2 separate regions of the Homo sapiens genome follow, and region 2 is linked to region 1. Evidence: fine-mapped expression QTL. A gene starts in region 1. The other region holds a variant in brackets. All regions are shown on one strand. Distances are from middle to middle.

Region 1 (2,918 bases):
GAAAGAAGGGCATGGAATCCCACTAAATTGACACTACAACCTAGCCCCCTCCTAAGCCAGCTCACTGGGCCTCTGGATGAAAAGGGGTTGCTGGACTAGCCGCACCCAAAGACCATCATTCAACAGTTGTTCTTGTCCAGAAGGCCACTCACTGCTCCCATTTAATGCCGACTGGGGCCAGGCAGGTGGTGGGGGTTACTTGCACCAGGCCAGAAAAGCAAATCTAAAGAAAAACAGCTGCTACTGCTGAAGACAGCAAGGGCCAGACAAAATAAGTCTCTGGGCAGCGTGCAGGTAGAAAGTTGACAGTTAAAAAGTTCCTTTTGAGGAGGAAGGTGGTGTCACCTGTTTTGTGTTTCAAGCATTCAAGAGCAAACAGTATGTCTGATTTTTTGTTTGTTTGTTTCTTAATTAGGAAAGAGCAAACAAGTATACCATTGTAGTGGGCCTCATGTCAGGGCATGGGAGCAGCATCCAGGGTAGAAAGCCTGTTGGGCCCTCAGCTCCTGGGGCTGTCTGTCTAGGCCAGTCTCCTCTCTTCTGTGGAATTCTGCAAGTCCATGTTCAGGGGGTGATGCTCTCGGTCTGACGGTGAAGGAGTTAAATTTTTTTGTCATTCATACCTCCTGGAGACCCTCTCCAGTAAGTGTCCTTCGGCCATAATAAAACTTCGTCCCTAGTGTGGTGGCTCACGCCTGTAATCCCAGCACTTTGGGAGGCCGAGGCAGGTGGATCACTTGAGGTCAGGAGTTCGAGATGAGCCTAGCCAAGACGGTGAAACCCCATCGCTACTAAAAATACAAAAATTAACCCCATCTCTACTAAAAATAGAAAAATTAGCCAGGCATGGTGGCGGGTGCCTGTAATCACAGCTACTCAGGAGGCTGAGGCAGGAGAATCACTTGAACTCAGGAGGAGGAGGATGCACTAAGCTGAGATCACGCCACTGCACTCCAGCCTGGGCAATGGGGCAAGGCTCTGCCTCAAAAAAACAAAAACTTCCCTCTGGAATTCCCATAGGCATTGCAAACAACAGAATTCAATCTTCCTGGACATCCAGGATCATTAGGGGCTTTTTATCAGCTAGTGCAAGAGGAGCAGGAATTATTACGAGCTTGCTGCCTGTAGGATTAACTGGGTCCTTTGGGACACACACCACTGGGGACAGAGGAGGGTGAGCGTCACTGTTACAAGTAACCAAGAGGGAAATCCTGTTGAGAAAGTTGCCTTAAACACATTAGTTATCTTTTAATACACGTATGTAATCCTCACAACAAGTCCTTTAAGTAAGCAGTACTCGTAGCTCCATTTTACTGAAAAAGAAACTGAGTTTTAGGGAAACTAAGTGACTAGGCCAAGTTCTCACAGCTATAAAGTGGCTGTGACTGTAAACCCAACAGTTTGAATCAAGGACCTGTAACTGTCACCACTAAGCTGTGGAGTAGTGACAGCATTAGCTTCCAAGTATGTGCCAGCCACACTTTCTGAGCAACCTTATACTTGAAATGTAGACATCGTGTAGAACCTACTCTCCTGTACTCACAGTTGAGATAGGATTAAACCCCAATTTCAAAGCCCCTTACAGAGTTCCACTTACCAGGTTATTTCAGCCGGCAACCAGGAACTAGACTGAATGCAATCCTCCCACATCCAAGGTCTATGAGGAAGTGCTCTCACTTCCAAAGTCTGCAGGGGAAGTGCTCTCATTGGATGTCCAACTGGCCCCGCCCCCAGAGTCACATTAGGGTTACCCCAGGGGCCCCTGGGAAATGTAGTTGCAGGGACTCAGGTTGCTCCTGTGGACCCCTTATTCATATCTTACCATAAAAAAGGGTGGAGAGTTGTATTGTCCGATTATCCCCATGCCACCGGCTGGGAGGACTGTGCTCTTATATTTCACCTGGTTCCTGCTCTCTGGGAGCCTGACACTAGATGTCCCATGTGTGATGTGGAACGTGAGAGCTTGGAACAGGTCCAGGAAAAGCAGAACTGGTAACCTAGAGGAGGCAAAAGAGGAAGATGGAAGGCTTTAATCACACTCCAAGTTTATGGTATACTTTCTTCATCAGTTCCCATTAGACTTCTTTTAAAAATTTTTCTTCCCTTCATCCATCATCCTCATTCCCACTGGCCTCTCTACCTGAAGGCACTGGGCAATGTGTCTGAAAGAGCCCCATGTGTGTGGTATGAGGGTGATATATGTCATATGGCTTTGTTTATGCTGGTGTTTTTTATTTACATTCATGGTATTGATCTACAACTCTTGCTGTTTCTTATGCATTTTTCTCTATACAACATAATTTTTGTTTCTTTATTGACCCAATATACATGTTTACAGGGTACAATGTGGTGTTCTTATACATACATACATTGTGTAATGATCAAATCATGATAATTAGCACATCTATCACTTCAAACATTTATCATTTCTTTGTTTTGAGAACATTCCACCAGTGAGTGTTTCCTTGTGCTGTGCCTTCGGCACCTACTGTTCTAGAACATGCCTCTGGCGTCCTGCCACGTGAACTCGGGACTCTATGCGAAGGCTTTCTCTTGGCATGTCCTCAGGCAGGCTAGATAGACTTGAAAACTATGGGTCTGGGACCACTATTCAGCCCAGGATGTTGGGAGTTGGAGGCCACATATCTTTGTGCTGTACCTGGTCAGGTGGAATTACCCTTAGGCTTGTATAACACTGCCTCCTGGTGTTGTCCAGTGGAATTATGCTCCCTTTGTTCACAGGTAGCTTGCCAATGATGCACCCTTTATTGATTGTCAAACTGCCCTGGTCTCACTGTCCCGCGACAACTCCTGCACTGGTACGTCCTTAAATCATCTTCCAAATAATCTACCTGAATGCAAATCTTTGTTTTAGGGTCTGGCGGAAGGCCACTTTAGTTAGGTGGTTGTGAAGTGGA
Region 2 (2,918 bases), 290 kb before region 1:
CTACTACTAATAATATTATAATATGGGAAATAATAGTAATATAGGACATTTTAAATTCTCTCCTCTAAGAAGAGGCCAATACTGGAGAGTGAATACTTGATAAATCAAACTCCCCCTGTCCCCATCCCATACCACCCCATCTCTCTCAATTCCTCACTAAGTGGCTTCCAAGGATGGAGAATGAAGATGAGGAGGCCACATGTCTGGCTTCTGCCTTGCTGAGTGGGCGGTGGCAGTTGGAGGTGATCTGAGGAACTGTGTGGGAGAGGGGGAAGAAATAATGGGATAGATTTTGGTGGAAGGGTCTTCAGGAAATGAGGAGAGATATTGAAAGAAAAGTTGTGTGAGATTTTGCTATCCGGTGTGTGATTTCCTGATTTCCACCCCACCCCTGCCAAATCTCTTGTTTGTTTATTTATATGTTTTTGAGATGGAGTCTTGCTCTGTAGCCCAGGCTGGAGTGTGGTAGTGCAACGTCGGCTCACTGCATCCTCCGCCTCCCAGGTTCAAGCAATTCTCCTGCCTCAGCCTCCCAAGTAGCTGGGATTACAGGTACCCGCCACCATGCCTGGACAATTTTTGTATTTTTAGTGGAGATGGGGTTTCACCATGTTGGCCAGGCTGGTCTTCAACTCCTGACCTCAGGTGAACTGCTCACCTTGGCCTCCCAAAGTGCTGGGATTGCAGGTGTGAGCCACCATACTCAACCAAATCTCTTGTTTAGTTTCAGGATTAACGTGTGGCAGAGTGGGGCACCTATTCTACAAAAATGGTTTAGTGCCAGGTGTGACTTCAAGGTGAGCACAGACCATGAGTGGAAGTGAACTAAGCCCTTCCCCAGCCCCTCTGCTCCAGTTAGTTTAAAACTGCCTCCCTCAACGTGTGACCAGAGAACATAAAGTGCTCTGGGACTCTGGGATGTAGGAGTTAGTCTAAGATGAGAAAACTACCACCATCTCCTCGGGGTCTCATCTACACAGGGAGCCTGTGCACTCTCCGGTCCCCTCAAGCCCAAGTGTGCTGTGAAGTTTGACAGGTGTCATCTCTGGGGTTTCTAAAAGGCTCCCACTAAAGGATGCTTTGTGAAAGTCTGGTTTTCCTTATCAGACACGAATCACCTAAGTCTCTCCTTGTACCCAGATGGCTAAATTTGGTTTATATGATCTCACTGTGACCTTCT[C/G]TTGAACAGCTCTGTGCGTGCTGCCAAAATGAAAATGAACAATGTCAGTGCCATGATGTCCAGTTGAGCTGTGACCTGGATTCTGGTCTCGCATACACAGAAGCAACTGAAAGCTGAGAATGAGGGGCCGCCGATGGCTGGGTGTGTGGGGGCATTGTATTACTTGAGCCCATCCCTTGAAAAGCTTAGGAGTCCTCCACCTCCACTGGGAACTCATCAACTCCTGGCAAGAAGAATGTCCCTGGGCACAGGGGACAGGGATCAGCTGTCCGAGGTGAGAGTCCTCCCTGGTGAGCCCACACCTCCACGTGGGGCACTGCAGGCTGTGAAGAAAGGTGAGCAAGATGACAGTGTCGCTGCTGCTCCAGAAAGTAGGATGCAGGGCCCATCTGGCCTCGGCCCCCACACTTCTCACTCCCTGCTCTGTTGGTGCCAAGGCTTGACTTGCCTGTGAAAGGAAATGAGAAAATCACCTTGGAATTAAAAGACCAACAACAAATAGTCAACCTTGGAAGGGTCGGGCTGAAGACTCTTTTCGAAATACAGATGGAGGATAGAACAGAATGCTTGGGACCAGAAGTGTTTTGGACTTTGGACTTTTAGATTTTGGAGTATTGTCATTGTATTTACTGGCTGAGCATCTCAGATCTGAAAATCTGAAATCCAAAATGTTCCAACGTGCATTTCCTTTGAGCATCATGTCCGCCCTGAAAAAGTTTTGTATTTTGGAACATTTTAGATTTTTGGATTTGGGATGCTCAAACCTGTATTAGGTTGAACCATATAAAACTGCCAGCGTTGGTCATTTTTGACCAGCAAAAATGTCAATTTCATATGGTTCAAACTGACGTGATGGTGATTCCCCTTCTAAGTCTTCCCACTGCATTTGGAATAAAGACCATTTTTTTATTTTTATTTTTTTCTTTTGAGACAAGGTCTTGCTCTGTTCCTGGGCTGGATTGCATTGGTGCTATCATAGCTCACTGCAGCCCTGAACTCCTGAGCTCAAGTGATCATCGTCTCAGTCTCTTGAGTAGCCGGGACTACAAGTGCCTGCCATCAGGCCTGGCTAATTTTTTATTTTTTGTAGAGACAGCATCTTACTACATTGTCCAGTCTGCTCTCGAACTCCTGGGCTCAAGTGATCCTCCTGTCTCAGCCTCCCAAAGTGCTGGGATTACAGGTGTGATTGGCCTAAGACCAAATATTCTTGACTGAGCCCACCGGGCTCCCCCAACTCTCTGTCCAGCTTCACGGCTATACTTTTTGATCCTGCTATTCTCCTAACAACCTCTCCACCTCTTAGTCTTGCTCATTCTGTGCCCTTCCTGAAGGATCCCCTCTCTTCCCCAAGTAACTCATCCTTCAGATATGTGTTTGAATGCCAGTTTCATGGGAAGTCTTTTCTGACTAGGCTTTTCTGCTCCTCAATGTGCTCAGAGCACCTTCACTTTCCCTAGGAGGTGTGATCCCGGCTTGTATTGATGGATCAGTGTCCGTGTTGGATGCTTGCCTCTCCCCCAAGGGGCCCTGCAGCCAGACACCTGGAGGTCCCTCCATGTGATTGGTCATGGAAGCTTTGCCTTGTTGATACTTGTTTGAATGCTCTGTATTGAAGTAATAATTTGCATGACCATACGATAAAGGATTTTGCATTCTCTGTTCAATAGGAACTTTACCAACAGCCCTCAGACCATGAGAGTCAGTGAAAGTAATCAGAGGGCTCTGCCTTTTCTCT

Which allele goes with the higher level. Positions count from the first base shown, and alleles are read on the strand shown. Sizes are in standard deviations (SD) of each study's normalised expression.
As copies of C replace G in region 2, the expression in cerebellar hemisphere of the gene that starts at base 1,669 in region 1 goes down (moderate effect, 0.52 SD a copy in GTEx).

What was found. PIP is the estimated chance that this variant, and not a neighbour inherited with it, causes the effect.
Region 2: its variant is the best candidate, but not a certain one, in a credible set for the expression of NAT1 in cerebellar hemisphere (GTEx, PIP 0.78).

The regions. Positions count from the first base shown.
Region 1 is chr8:18,208,860-18,211,777 of GRCh38, reverse strand. NAT1 (N-acetyltransferase 1) reads right to left here and starts at 1,669. Exons shown (of 3, transcript NM_000662.8): 1 at 1,598-1,669.
Region 2 is chr8:18,497,272-18,500,189 of GRCh38, reverse strand. No RefSeq gene overlaps it. Among named protein-coding and RNA genes, the nearest start is that of NAT2, 110 kb to the right of the region's middle. The variant C/G (reference allele first, on the strand shown) is at 1,181.